Linked DNA regions of Homo sapiens. Each later gene encodes a partner of the first gene's protein in a complex. Each region holds a gene or a part of one and is shown in the gene's direction. Other genes may lie near its edges. The genes, in order: IRF3 and CREBBP.

Region 1 (8,186 bases):
TCTTGAACTCCTGGCCTCAAATAATTCTCCTGCCTTGGCCTCCAAAAGTGCTGGGATTACAGGCATGAGCTACCCCGTCCGGCCTCTCCCTGAGTAACCTCAGTCACTGGTTTCACGCTCACAGTATTAGCGTACCCAGTCGTTGACGCCAGGCATAGTGTCTGCACTCATCGCTGCAGTCCTGGCATACAGCAAGGGCTCAACAGAACGAACGCAGTGGAGCTGGGAGAATACCTGAGGTCTGAGAGGAACCTAAGAAGTCCCCGCCCCTCCTCTATCACATGACAGTTAGGTAAAGTGAGGCCCGGAGAGAGAGGCTTCAGCGGCTCACCCAGCCCCCGTGGGCCTGGATCCAGGGCGTGAAGCTGTGCACGTGCTCCACGCTGAGTCCGGCCAGGGTGCCCCCCAGCCCGGCCACGCGCCGGCTCAGCTCCATGGCTAGGGCCAGGCGGGCCAGGGGCTCCGGGGAAGGAGGCGGGGGCCCGGGGCATGCTCGGCTTGGGCGAGAGCTGTCATCCCGGCTACAGAACAGCTCCACCAGGCGGGCGAAAGAGTCGGAGGACAGGCGGACCAGCTTGCTGCGCAGGGCGGGGTCCGAGGCCAGCTGTAGGGTGGAAGAGGCAGGGTCCGCGTCAGCAGCGCCCCCGGGGCCAGCCAATAGAGGGCCGGGAGGCGTGGCTTCCCGGTTCAGGATCGTTCTAGATGCTAAGGTTCTAGGCCACCCCTCATCCATATTAGCCAATCAAGCCAGACTCCAGGGTCTCTGCCAAACTACCCCCGGGATAGTGGCCTGGAACGTGAGTCCCTAAGCCATGCCAGGCCCTTGCCTCAACAGCCAATCAGGGCCAATCTCTACTGTAACTGAGTTAATCTAGCCATGCCCCTGGTGACCTTTCCCAGGGGCCAACCTAGTGTCTACAACAATCTTGCCCTCTACCATTCAATTAATATTAAAGGACGATGTACCTTGTCCAAGCTCCGAAGCCAATCAGATTCCAGGACACAGCCACAAGCCACACCTCCTCTGGTAGTACATTTTCCCCTACATTCTAAGCCAGGTCCCTTCTATGCTCAGTAAGATTTTAGCCACTCCCCCCACCCCCACATTCATTCACTTACTTCCCCAGCTTGGCCAGTCTCTTGTGGATAATGTTTCTGATGGCCACACCCTCTGCATTTAGGCCATGCCCCTCTAAACAATCAATTAAAACAACTAATTTACGGTACAGTACTACCCTAACCATACCCCTGTCATTCAACTATTCTTTTTTTTTTTTTTTTTTAAAGACAGAGTCTCACTCTGTCACCCAGGCTGGAGTGCAGTGGCGCAATCTTGGCTCACTGCAACCTCCACCTCCTGGGCTCAAGCGATTCTCCTGCCTCAGCCTTCTGAGTAGCTGGGATTACAGAAGCGCACCACCACACCTGTCCGATTTTTGTATTTTTAGTAGAGATGGGGTTTCACCATGTTGGCCAGGCTGGTCTCGAACTCCTGACCTCAAGTCATCCACCCAACTCGGCCTCCCAAAGTGCTGGGATTACAGGCGTGAGCCACCACACCCGGCCTCAACCCTTCATTGAAACCTTGTCCCAGCCTCTTTCCACCTGACCATCCAAAGAAAATACAGATCCAGCTTCTGATCCCAGTGCCCCACCATTCCGCAACTCCTGTCCTTGCCAAGGAGTGGGACAGATGCCCATCACCTTCTGGTTAATGACTTCTGCCTCCTCCTCCAGCAGGGCCACCAGCCTCCGCAGTATGGCTTCCTTCTCTGTCGATGGGGGACCCTGTAATTCTGGAGGCAGAAGAGAATTTGGCTGGGGGCAGAACCCTGACTATCCTCCCACCGCCATCCTTCTCTGGGGCTCCTCTGTGCCTCACCTGGGCTGGGCGGAGATTTCAGCTGCTCTTGGACCAGCTGTTCCAGCCGCTGGGCCACCAAAGCATAGAAGTCTGGAGTAGCTGGGCCTGGGGTGAAAAGAGTTAATGACAGGTTTCCAGGACATTGGAAACTTACGGATTCTCTCCTTCCCCCAACTACCTTGGCAGGTGGCAATGATTCCCATTTTATTTATTATTTATTTATGTATTGATTTTGGGAAACGGAGTCTCGCAATTCTCCTGCCTCAGCCTCATGAGTAGCTGGGACTACAGGCGCACGCCGCCATACCTGGCTAATTTTTTGTATTTTAGTAGAAATGGGGTTTCACCGTGTTGCCCAGGCTGACCTCAGGCAATCCACCCACCTCAGCCTCCCAAAGTGCTAGGATTACAGGCGTGAGCAACCAAGCCTGGCCATGATTCCCATTTTATAATGGGGTAAACTGAGGCCCAGTGAGAAAACTTGGTTAAAAATGCCAAAACCCTTGTACTTTTCACTTTATGAGATCCTCAGACTGGACTTAGAATGTCAGAGCTGGGGCCAGGCGCAGTGGCTCACGCCTGTAATCCCATCACTTTGGGAGGCTGAGGCAGGCAGATCACCTGAGGTTGGGAGTTCGAGAGCAGCCTGACCAACATGGAGAAACCCCATCTCTACTAAAAATACAAAAAAAATTAGCCGGGCATGGTGGCGCATGCCTATAATCCCAGCTACTTGGGAGGCTGAGGCAGGAGAATTACTTGAACCCGGGAGGTAGAGGTTGTGGTGAGCCGAGATCGGGCCATTGCACTCCAGCCTGGGCAACAAGGGCGAAACTCCGTCTCAAAAAAAAAAAAAAAAAAAAGAATGTCAGAGCTGACAGGGTGCGGTGGCTCACGTCTGCAATCTCAACATTTTGGGAGGCCGACGTGGGAGGGTCACTTGAGGCCAGGAGTTTGAGGCCAGCCTGGCCAACGTGGCGAAACCCCGTGTCTACTAAAAGTATAAAAATCAGCTAGTATGCTGGCGTGCACCTGTAATCCCAGTCACTCGGGAGGCTGAGGCACGAGAATCGCTTGAACCCAGGAGGTGGGGATTGCAGTGAGTCGAGATTGCACCCCTGCACTCCAGCCTGGGTGACAGAGCAACAATCTGTCTCCAAAAGACTGTCAGAGCTCAACTAGACCTTGAAGATGATCTCATCCAAGGAAGGCAAACACAAGACATTACTGTTAGTATCCCCTTCCCTCACTCACTACAGACATCACCAATTGATCACAGCACTTCCTCTCCCAAGCTGTGAACCCCTTTTCAAGCTAGCACTCCCAGCAGCCATTACTAGTCTGTCCAGGTTCACACCTATGAGGAAACTTGTGGGTCACCTTGATCAAGTCCAGTGACCTCCTCCCCAATTCCTACTCTGCTATTGGAAAAACAGGGGAGCAGGGAAGAGAAAGCATTTTCCCCAGAGTCACGCAACTAAAACAGCCAGGGAGATGTGATTGAAAACCAGCCCTTCTGCCCCTCTATCAGGGGTATTCCTGGCTACAAAAGTCCTAGGGGCAGGGAAGTAGTTATGGAAGGAAAGAGACAACAACCAGATTGACCAAATGCTCTCTGAAAGCCAACCCACAGAATTGACAGAAATCTAACTGGGGAGGGGAGAGGACAGGACGGTTCTGTCCTGAAGGCTGGTGCTAGAGACTCCACACAGCCACCCCCTAGCTGAGTGATCTTAAACTAGCACCTTATCCCGTGTTCTGCCGGCTTCATAGATGATCATGGAAATCTCTTACCAGGCTCTAAACCATAGCAGGGGCGGATGGGCAGAGAGCAAGGCCGAGGGGACTCAGAGGGGGCTGCTCCTCGCCCCAGGGAGCAGGGAAGACATCTTCGAAGGCGGCTCAGGAAGTCTGTTGGCTCTTCTTGGGCAGGGCTTCTGGAGAGGAGGACTTCAGAGACTGACCCCACCAGAGATCCCCTGCAAGCAGTCTCTTTCCCCAACTCCCTCCCTCCCCCGCTGAGGACCTCTCTCCAAAACCCCAAAGACAGAGAATAGAGCCAGATATAAAGAGAGGAGACAGACTGAGACCAGGAGCAAGAGTTAGGAGGGAGCCTCAAATGCTGGCCCCTGGGGGAGAAGGGCCACTCCTCTTACCTAGGTGGAGTTGGAACAGGAGACCCGGCAGCCTCACCACGCCTAAGGAAGGCAGCTAGGACCCTCAGCGTGTCTTCCCGGAGCCCCAGCTCTTCAGAGCCTGCCATGGAGGCACCTGTGAGAGAGAGGGTTAGGGACTGGACTCCAAGGGTTTAGCAAGAAGTGGAGGCTTGGGGACCAGGACTTGTGAGTCCCAAGGAAGGTGCTGAGGGCCTGGACTCCTGGGTCCTTTGGAGAGTGTGGGTCTGGGGGCCTAGACTCTTGAGTCCTCAGACGAAAAAGCGATCAGGAAAAAGACTCTTCGATCCAAGGAAAGGTGGTGGGGCTGGGTGCCCAGATTCGTGGGTCTAAAGGAGGAGGGAGCTGGGGTCCTGGACTTCTGAGTCTTAGAGAAAAAGGAACTGGAGCCCCAGACCCTTAGGTCTCCCAGGAAGAAGAGGCTTAGCGCCCCAACTCCTGGATTCTATAAGAGGCATATGCCAAACTCCTGAAACCCTTAAAGCATCGGGAACTACCAATCCCAAGAGGTTTCAGGGCAAATCTTCCCCTAGGTCCGCGCTTCTTCGCCGCGCAGCCTGCTGTGAGGTGTAGTTCCAAATCTCCGACCCCTGCTGGAATCTAGAGGACCCTGGACCCTTGGATATCAGAGAAGCGGGACTGGGGTGCCCACCACTGGATCCCGGCCCCCTCCTCTTCCCTCCTCACCCCACCCCTCGTCAACACCCCGCTGACCTGGTCCGGGGCCCCACCGCCGCCTCCTCCACTCAACTTGCGGTCTCCTCCACTGAACTCGTACAAACTTTATTAGTTCAACTTTCCCGCGCCTGCGCACTGGGCCGGGTCGATAACCGGCCCAGCGTAGAAAGGGCGGAACGCTGGGTGCACGCTCAATTTGCATGTGACGCTCCCAGCATGCCTCTGGCCGGAAACCCAAAAAAGGGCATAGGGGCGGGAACAGCCCAGCGGGCCGTCCCATCGGCTTTTGGGTCTGTTACCCAAAGAATGATAAAGTTGGTTTTATTTCAAGAAGTCGATCAAAAAGAAAGCCCCAGCGCTCTAGAGCTCAGCTGACGGGAAAGGGGGTGCGCAGCCTCGAGTTTGAGAGCTACCCGGAGCTCCAAGACAGGGGTGGGTTCCAGCTGCCCGCACGCCCCGACCTTCCATCGTAGGTAACGCGGAAGAGCCCGGGAGAGCGTTGGTGGCGTCCGAGAGCGAGGAGCGGGAAAGAGGATGGGTCTGCACGGAGAGTGGAAAGGCAGGCTGTGTACTCTGGGGAAAGTGGAGCAAGGAAGGAGCTACAGTGGCCGACGCTGGAGGTCGGCTGCAGAAAAACTAGAAAAAGTAGGGAGGAAAGAGGAAAAGAGGAGGCGTCTACACTGAGGGGGTTCTAGAGAGGGAGGGGTGGACTCCGTAGATGGGGGTAGTTCAGTCTCGAAACCTGGGGCGTGCTCTGTCCTGGAGGAGGGAGGCGGGCAGTCGGAGGGGAATTGAATGGAAGTTCTGTGTTGGAAATGTTTTGGGAGATCTTCTGTAGGGGGACTGTGGAAGGGGGTCTACATTGGGGTAAGTGCAGGAGGTAGAGGCTTACACGTGAATCGATTCTGCACTGAAATAACTAGGGAAAGAGGATGCTACCCTGAAAGTGGGGATACTTACTTTCGATGATGTGGGGGAGGGAGGAGGTCTATACTGGCGGAATTGAGGGAGTGGAGGGTCTGCACTGAAGACGCTGGGGAAGGATGTGCCATGGATATGGGAAGGAACCCTAGCTGATTAGAGAGCCTCTCGGGAGGATGGGAGGATGGGAAGAGGAGGTTTCCTGTTTGTACCCCCGAAAATATGGGTGAAGGACCTGTGCCGTGGCCCGTGAGAAGGAGGTCTGGGTGCGGAAACTCCAGGCCAGGTGGGTCCGGGGGAGGCCGGTCGCGCCCAGGAAATGCCCTATACGCGCAGGCCGGACCATGGGAACCCCAAAGCCACGGATCCTGCCCTGGCTGGTGTCGCAGCTGGACCTGGGGCAACTGGAGGGCGTGGCCTGGGTGAACAAGAGCCGCACGCGCTTCCGCATCCCTTGGAAGCACGGCCTACGGCAGGATGCACAGCAGGAGGATTTCGGAATCTTCCAGGTGCGTGCGACGACCTGGGACGCTGGAAACCCGGAGCTGCGCGCTGGGCGGAAAGGACTCCTAGTGGGCCCGGCTGAGAAGGCGGAGGTGGCGCGCGAGGGGCGGGCTCGTGCCAACGCTGGTGGGTGGGGCTAGAACGGGAGGGGCGGGGCTAGCCGGATCCGCTGACTGATGGTGGGGCGCAAGCAGGGTTGGAGCTGCAGGGTTACGGGAATAAAACCGGGAAAGCCGGTTAGTACGCAAAGGAAATGCATCCTGGGGGTTTGGGGCTTTCTAGAGGCCGGGGCTCTTGGTTGTAGGATAGATACTGGGGGATGGTTCTTGAAACATCAGAGGTGAGGCCTGGAGCCCCAAATCTGAGGTTCCTAACTACCGAATTAGTATATGCCAGAGGTGGTAAACAGTGTGAGGGGCGGGGTTATCACAGAGGGTGTCGCGGGGCAGGTGGTGCACGGGATTAGACACCAAGTTGGACTTGGAAGCCTGGCTTAGAAAGAAAAGGTTTTTGGGCCGGGGGCGGTGGTTCACACCTGTAATCCTAGCACTTTGCAAGGCCAAGGCGGGAGGATCGCTTGAGCCCAGGAGTTTGAGGCCAGCTTGGGCAACATAGGCTCCATCTCTTTAAAAACAAAAGCGAAACAAAACAAAAACCAAAGAGGTTTCAAAGGCTTTTGAAGAGGCCGAGCACAGTAGCTCATGCCTGTAATCCCAGCACTTTGGGAGGCCGAGGAGGACGGATCACCTGAGGTCAGGAGTTCAAGACCAGCCTGGCCAACATGGTGAAACCCCATCTCTACTAAAAATACAAAAATTAGCCAGGTGTAGTGGTGCCCACCTGTAATCCCAGCTACTCAGGAGGCTGAGACAGGAGAATCGCTTGAACCGGGGAGGCGGAAGTTGCAGTGAGCTGAGATTGCACCATTGCATTCCAGCCTGGGTGACAGGAGTGAAACTCCATCTCAAAAAGAAAAAAAGCCTTTTGAAAACTAGAGGTGGGGGATGGAGGTAGGTGGGACGGGGGGATTTGGGGATGGACCTTGCAGAGTTAGAACTTGCCAGGGAAAGAGGGTGGTGTTAGGACTCGGGAGACAGGGTTAGGGCCCCAGGAGCAGGATCTAAGTCGTCCTCCCCCACCATCCTGACACCACTGTTGCCCCAGGCCTGGGCCGAGGCCACTGGTGCATATGTTCCCGGGAGGGATAAGCCAGACCTGCCAACCTGGAAGAGGAATTTCCGCTCTGCCCTCAACCGCAAAGAAGGGTTGCGTTTAGCAGAGGACCGGAGCAAGGACCCTCACGACCCACATAAAATCTACGAGTTTGTGAACTCAGGTCTGCCAGCTTGGGGTTCGTGTGGGAGGCTGGGGCCCCAAGGGTTCCTGGCACTCCTACTCCCCTCACCACTTTTCTCAACAGGAGTTGGGGACTTTTCCCAGCCAGACACCTCTCCGGACACCAATGGTGGAGGCAGTACTTCTGATACCCAGGTGAGAATGTGCCCAACTTTCATGCCCCTCAGTCTCCGACCTGTCTCCATGGGCCTTGTCCTCTCCCTCTAGACGATCCCCCCACTCCCCTGCCTCCAGCCTGCCCCTCACCTGAGCCAGTGCTGACCCTGTCTGTCCCTGCCCCGGTCTCCTCAGGAGAAAATTCCAAGTCTTCACCCAGCATTCAAGGCCCGAGCACACCTTCCCGGGATTTCATGGATTTCGATTCGCAGGGGGCTGTCAGCCTCTTGGGAACTGAAAAACTCCCTCACCTTGATCCTGCTGAGGCCCAAGCTGGGGGAGCATCCCCTCTGAAATTCTACCCAGCCTGCTTTGCCCAGGTCTTACCTGCATAGAGCCAGATCCTTGGGTTGGAATGGTAGCACCTGGCGTTCATTAGTGTTTGTTTGGCTGTTGATGCCATGGCTGGCTCTGTCCCCAGGCTGGAAGCCCCTTGAAGGCAGAGCTCAAGCCTGACCTCCCTGCGTTGCTGAGAACAGACCTGGTCCATATGAAGTCTCCAGAAAAGGATATGGAAATGCCTGATTCTCTTT
Region 2 (6,424 bases), on another chromosome or scaffold:
GACAGTCACCATCACCTGCCAACCCGGAGCCTCCTCACTTGCTGTGGTGTCTGTAGCGGGGCAGAGCGGGTCCTCAGCAGAGCGAGGGCCTTTCTTCCCTCCCCACCTTCACACACTTCTTCCGCTTTCCACCTTTCTCCAGTCTCCTTTGTCCTCTTTCTAGTTTCTGAATGCGGCAGTTTTCATATCTTTTTGTGAACACAGTCATGGTACCTGGTCCTAGGGCTCCATCAGGTTGCCAGGTGCGAGCAGTTTTCAGTAACTTGGGCTTGCGCGTTGGGGAAGTCCCACTGGTGCACTGCGGATAGCTCAGGCCTTCCCAGAGGCACTTCACGGCAGCTGTCGGCGCTTTGGGAGGGACCGGCCTCCCTCAGCCTTTCACTGTCTGGCTTCATAGTTTGAGTACAGGAGTTGGACAGGCTGTGGCAAGGGCTGATGTGACTCCCAGGTCAGAGGAAGTCGGAAGGAAGGGGGCTGGTGTCTACTGTCCGTGAGCTTACAGGCCAGGGGTTCTTGGGGCATGGGTCAGGTTATCTTTGAGCCTTCAGGGCTGTTGCCAGGAGTGAAGGTCCTTGGGAGCAACACATAGGCAGTCCATGCCCCCGTCCTGTCCATGATCCCATGTTGTCCATGATCCCATCCCGTCCATGATCCCATCTTGTCCGTGCTCCCGCCCTGTCCGGGTCTCCCACCTGTCCGTGCTCGCATCCTGTCTGGGTCTCCTATCCTGCCTGGGTCTCCTGGCACAGACCCAGACTTAGCGGTGGAGGGAAGCAGCCAGGATGCCTGGTGGTACTGGGTCCCATGCTGACACCGGCCTGTCCCCTTTCCTTGCTTGCAGGACTACGACCTCTGCATCAACTGCTATAACACGAAGAGCCATGCCCATAAGATGGTGAAGTGGGGGCTGGGCCTGGATGACGAGGGCAGCAGCCAGGGCGAGCCACAGTCAAAGAGCCCCCAGGAGTCACGCCGGCTGAGCATCCAGCGCTGCATCCAGTCGCTGGTGCACGCGTGCCAGTGCCGCAACGCCAACTGCTCGCTGCCATCCTGCCAGAAGATGAAGCGGGTGGTGCAGCACACCAAGGGCTGCAAACGCAAGACCAACGGGGGCTGCCCGGTGTGCAAGCAGCTCATCGCCCTCTGCTGCTACCACGCCAAGCACTGCCAAGAAAACAAATGCCCCGTGCCCTTCTGCCTCAACATCAAACACAAGCTCCGCCAGCAGCAGATCCAGCACCGCCTGCAGCAGGCCCAGCTCATGCGCCGGCGGATGGCCACCATGAACACCCGCAACGTGCCTCAGCAGAGTCTGCCTTCTCCTACCTCAGCACCGCCCGGGACCCCCACACAGCAGCCCAGCACACCCCAGACGCCGCAGCCCCCTGCCCAGCCCCAACCCTCACCCGTGAGCATGTCACCAGCTGGCTTCCCCAGCGTGGCCCGGACTCAGCCCCCCACCACGGTGTCCACAGGGAAGCCTACCAGCCAGGTGCCGGCCCCCCCACCCCCGGCCCAGCCCCCTCCTGCAGCGGTGGAAGCGGCTCGGCAGATCGAGCGTGAGGCCCAGCAGCAGCAGCACCTGTACCGGGTGAACATCAACAACAGCATGCCCCCAGGACGCACGGGCATGGGGACCCCGGGGAGCCAGATGGCCCCCGTGAGCCTGAATGTGCCCCGACCCAACCAGGTGAGCGGGCCCGTCATGCCCAGCATGCCTCCCGGGCAGTGGCAGCAGGCGCCCCTTCCCCAGCAGCAGCCCATGCCAGGCTTGCCCAGGCCTGTGATATCCATGCAGGCCCAGGCGGCCGTGGCTGGGCCCCGGATGCCCAGCGTGCAGCCACCCAGGAGCATCTCACCCAGCGCTCTGCAAGACCTGCTGCGGACCCTGAAGTCGCCCAGCTCCCCTCAGCAGCAACAGCAGGTGCTGAACATTCTCAAATCAAACCCGCAGCTAATGGCAGCTTTCATCAAACAGCGCACAGCCAAGTACGTGGCCAATCAGCCCGGCATGCAGCCCCAGCCTGGCCTCCAGTCCCAGCCCGGCATGCAACCCCAGCCTGGCATGCACCAGCAGCCCAGCCTGCAGAACCTGAATGCCATGCAGGCTGGCGTGCCGCGGCCCGGTGTGCCTCCACAGCAGCAGGCGATGGGAGGCCTGAACCCCCAGGGCCAGGCCTTGAACATCATGAACCCAGGACACAACCCCAACATGGCGAGTATGAATCCACAGTACCGAGAAATGTTACGGAGGCAGCTGCTGCAGCAGCAGCAGCAACAGCAGCAGCAACAACAGCAGCAACAGCAGCAGCAGCAAGGGAGTGCCGGCATGGCTGGGGGCATGGCGGGGCACGGCCAGTTCCAGCAGCCTCAAGGACCCGGAGGCTACCCACCGGCCATGCAGCAGCAGCAGCGCATGCAGCAGCATCTCCCCCTCCAGGGCAGCTCCATGGGCCAGATGGCGGCTCAGATGGGACAGCTTGGCCAGATGGGGCAGCCGGGGCTGGGGGCAGACAGCACCCCCAACATCCAGCAAGCCCTGCAGCAGCGGATTCTGCAGCAACAGCAGATGAAGCAGCAGATTGGGTCCCCAGGCCAGCCGAACCCCATGAGCCCCCAGCAACACATGCTCTCAGGACAGCCACAGGCCTCGCATCTCCCTGGCCAGCAGATCGCCACGTCCCTTAGTAACCAGGTGCGGTCTCCAGCCCCTGTCCAGTCTCCACGGCCCCAGTCCCAGCCTCCACATTCCAGCCCGTCACCACGGATACAGCCCCAGCCTTCGCCACACCACGTCTCACCCCAGACTGGTTCCCCCCACCCCGGACTCGCAGTCACCATGGCCAGCTCCATAGATCAGGGACACTTGGGGAACCCCGAACAGAGTGCAATGCTCCCCCAGCTGAACACCCCCAGCAGGAGTGCGCTGTCCAGCGAACTGTCCCTGGTCGGGGACACCACGGGGGACACGCTAGAGAAGTTTGTGGAGGGCTTGTAGCATTGTGAGAGCATCACCTTTTCCCTTTCATGTTCTTGGACCTTTTGTACTGAAAATCCAGGCATCTAGGTTCTTTTTATTCCTAGATGGAACTGCGACTTCCGAGCCATGGAAGGGTGGATTGATGTTTAAAGAAACAATACAAAGAATATATTTTTTTGTTAAAAACCAGTTGATTTAAATATCTGGTCTCTCTCTTTGGTTTTTTTTTGGCGGGGGGGTGGGGGGGGTTCTTTTTTTTCCGTTTTGTTTTTGTTTGGGGGGAGGGGGGTTTTGTTTGGATTCTTTTTGTCGTCATTGCTGGTGACTCATGCCTTTTTTTAACGGGAAAAACAAGTTCATTATATTCATATTTTTTATTTGTATTTTCAAGACTTTAAACATTTATGTTTAAAAGTAAGAAGAAAAATAATATTCAGAACTGATTCCTGAAATAATGCAAGCTTATAATGTATCCCGATAACTTTGTGATGTTTCGGGAAGATTTTTTTCTATAGTGAACTCTGTGGGCGTCTCCCAGTATTACCCTGGATGATAGGAATTGACTCCGGCGTGCACACACGTACACACCCACACACATCTATCTATACATAATGGCTGAAGCCAAACTTGTCTTGCAGATGTAGAAATTGTTGCTTTGTTTCTCTGATAAAACTGGTTTTAGACAAAAAATAGGGATGATCACTCTTAGACCATGCTAATGTTACTAGAGAAGAAGCCTTCTTTTCTTTCTTCTATGTGAAACTTGAAATGAGGAAAAGCAATTCTAGTGTAAATCATGCAAGCGCTCTAATTCCTATAAATACGAAACTCGAGAAGATTCAATCACTGTATAGAATGGTAAAATACCAACTCATTTCTTATATCATATTGTTAAATAAACTGTGTGCAACAGACAAAAAGGGTGGTCCTTCTTGAATTCATGTACATGGTATTAACACTTAGTGTTCGGGGTTTTTTGTTATGAAAATGCTGTTTTCAACATTGTATTTGGACTATGCATGTGTTTTTTCCCCATTGTATATAAAGTACCGCTTAAAATTGATATAAATTACTGAGGTTTTTAACATGTATTCTGTTCTTTAAGATCCCTGTAAGAATGTTTAAGGTTTTTATTTATTTATATATATTTTTTGAGTCTGTTCTTTGTAAGACATGGTTCTGGTTGTTCGCTCATAGCGGAGAGGCTGGGGCTGCGGTTGTGGTTGTGGCGGCGTGGGTGGTGGCTGGGAACTGTGGCCCAGGCTTAGCGGCCGCCCGGAGGCTTTTCTTCCCGGAGACTGAGGTGGGCGACTGAGGTGGGCGGCTCAGCGTTGGCCCCACACATTCGAGGCTCACAGGTGATTGTCGCTCACACAGTTAGGGTCGTCAGTTGGTCTGAAACTGCATTTGGCCCACTCCTCCATCCTCCCTGTCCGTCGTAGCTGCCACCCCCAGAGGCGGCGCTTCTTCCCGTGTTCAGGCGGCTCCCCCCCCCCGTACACGACTCCCAGAATCTGAGGCAGAGAGTGCTCCAGGCTCGCGAGGTGCTTTCTGACTTCCCCCCAAATCCTGCCGCTGCCGCGCAGCATGTCCCGTGTGGCGTTTGAGGAAATGCTGAGGGACAGACACCTTGGAGCACCAGCTCCGGTCCCTGTTACAGTGAGAAAGGTCCCCCACTTCGGGGGATACTTGCACTTAGCCACATGGTCCTGCCTCCCTTGGAGTCCAGTTCCAGGCTCCCTTACTGAGTGGGTGAGACAAGTTCACAAAAACCGTAAAACTGAGAGGAGGACCATGGGCAGGGGAGCTGAAGTTCATCCCCTAAGTCTACCACCCCCAGCACCCAGAGAACCCACTTTATCCCTAGTCCCCCAACAAAGGCTGGTCTAGGTGGGGGTGATGGTAATTTTAGAAATCACGCCCCAAATAGCTTCCGTTTGGGCCCTTACATTCACAGATAGGTTTTAAATAGCTGAATACTTGGTTTGGGAATCTGAATTCGAGGAACCTTTCTAAGAAGTTGGAAAGGTCCGATCTAGTTTTAGCACAGAGCTTTGAACCTTGAGTTATAAAATGCAGAATAATTCAAGTAAAAATAAGACCACCATCTGGCACCCCTGACCAGCCCCCATTCACCCCATCCCAGGAGGGGAAGCACAGGCCGGGCCTCCGGTGGAGATTGCTGCCACTGCTCGGCCTGCTGGGTTCTTAACCTCCAGTGTCCTCTTCATCTTTTCCACCCGTAGGGAAACCTTGAGCCATGTGTTCAAACAAGAAGTGGGGCTAGAGCCCGAGAGCAGCAGCTCTAAGCCCACACTCAGAAAGTGGCGCCCTCCTGGTTGTGCAGCCTTTTAATGTGGGCAGTGGAGGGGCCTCTGTTTCAGGTTATCCTGGAATTCAAAACGTTATGTACCAACCTCATCCTCTTTGGAGTCTGCATCCTGTGCAACCGTCTTGGGCAATCCAGATGTCGAAGGATGTGACCGAGAGCATGGTCTGTGGATGCTAACCCTAAGTTTGTCGTAAGGAAATTTCTGTAAGAAACCTGGAAAGCCCCAACGCTGTGTCTCATGCTGTATACTTAAGAGGAGAAGAAAAAGTCCTATATTTGTGATCAAAAAGAGGAAACTTGAAATGTGATGGTGTTTATAATAAAAGATGGTAAAACTACTTGGATTCAAAGATGGTTCAGATTGGCTAATGACTTACAGTTAGCTCAACGGCTCGTCATTATAGGATTGCAGATGCGGGCCCGGTGCGGTGGCTCACGCCTGTAATCCCAGCACTTTGGGAGGCCAAGGCGGGTGGATCATGAAGTCGGGAGTTCGAGACCAGCCTGGCCAAGAAGGTGAAACCCCATCTCTATTAAAATACAAAAAAATTAGCCGGGTGTGGTGGCAGGCGCCTAGAATCCCAGCTACTCAGGAGGCTGAGGCAGAGAATCGCTTGAACCCAGGAGGCGGAGGTTGCAGTGAGCCGGGATCGTGCCACTGCACTACAGCCTGGGCAACAGTGAGATTTTGTCTCAAAAAAACGATTGTAGGTGGTGCTGGCCGGGCTTGGTGGCTCATGCCTGTAATCCCAGCACTTTGGGAGTCTGAGGCGGGCAGATCACATGGTCAGGAGTTTGAGACGAGCCTGGCCAATATGGTGAAACCCCATCTCTACTACAAAAAATACAAAAAATTGGCCGAGGTGTAGTGGCTCACGCCTGTAATCCCAACACTTTGGGAGGCCAAGGCAGGCAGATCACGACGTCAGCAGTTCGAGACCAGTCTGACCAGCGTGGTGAAACCCCGTCTCTACTAAACATACAAAAATTAGCTGGGCATGGTGGCGCACGCCTGTAATCCCAGCTACTCAGGAGACTGAGGCAGGAGAATCACTTAAACCCGGGAGGTGGAGGTTGCAGTGAGCCAAGATTGCACCACTGCACTCTGGCCT

Evidence for each region.
Region 2: the proteins of IRF3 (region 1) and CREBBP are in contact, whole or in part, in a crystal structure (PDB 5JEM), measured with the Homo sapiens proteins. Residues at the interface, in NP_001562.1 of Homo sapiens: Pro198, Gly199, Glu200, Glu201, Trp202, Glu203, Ser221, Leu322, Ile326, Leu329, Ile330, Thr333, Thr370, Cys371, Leu372, Ala374, Leu375, Glu377, Met378, Ala379, Val381, Gly382, Gly383, Ala384; in NP_004371.2 of Homo sapiens: Leu2070 (codon at 1,877), Thr2073 (codon at 1,886), Leu2074 (codon at 1,889), Lys2075 (codon at 1,892), Ser2076 (codon at 1,895), Ser2079 (codon at 1,904), Gln2081 (codon at 1,910), Gln2082 (codon at 1,913), Gln2084 (codon at 1,919), Gln2085 (codon at 1,922), Val2086 (codon at 1,925), Asn2088 (codon at 1,931), Ile2089 (codon at 1,934), Leu2090 (codon at 1,937), Asn2093 (codon at 1,946), Gln2095 (codon at 1,952), Leu2096 (codon at 1,955), Ala2099 (codon at 1,964), Phe2100 (codon at 1,967), Gln2103 (codon at 1,976).

What each region holds. Positions count from the first base shown.
Region 1 is NC_000019.10:49,662,634-49,670,819, reverse strand, and holds the start of IRF3 (interferon regulatory factor 3), read left to right. Parts: upstream 1-4,996; 5' UTR 4,997-5,189; exon of another isoform or gene 5,190-5,678; intron 5,679-5,973; 5' UTR 5,974-5,981; coding exon 5,982-6,146; exon of another isoform or gene 6,147-6,317; coding exon of another isoform or gene 6,318-6,377; exon of another isoform or gene 6,378-7,145; coding exon of another isoform or gene 7,146-7,151; intron 7,152-7,305; coding exon 7,306-7,477; intron 7,478-7,561; coding exon 7,562-7,632; intron 7,633-8,186. Other genes in the region: BCL2L12 (bcl-2-like protein 12), read right to left, coding at 332-604, 1,705-1,796, 1,883-1,969, 3,659-3,801, 4,021-4,127.
Region 2 is NC_000016.10:3,724,292-3,730,715, reverse strand, and holds the end of CREBBP (CREB-binding protein), read left to right. Parts: intron 1-841; coding exon 842-2,998; 3' UTR 2,999-5,662; downstream 5,663-6,424. UniProt on the Homo sapiens protein: Acetylates histones, giving a specific tag for transcriptional activation. Mediates acetylation of histone H3 at 'Lys-18' and 'Lys-27' (H3K18ac and H3K27ac, respectively).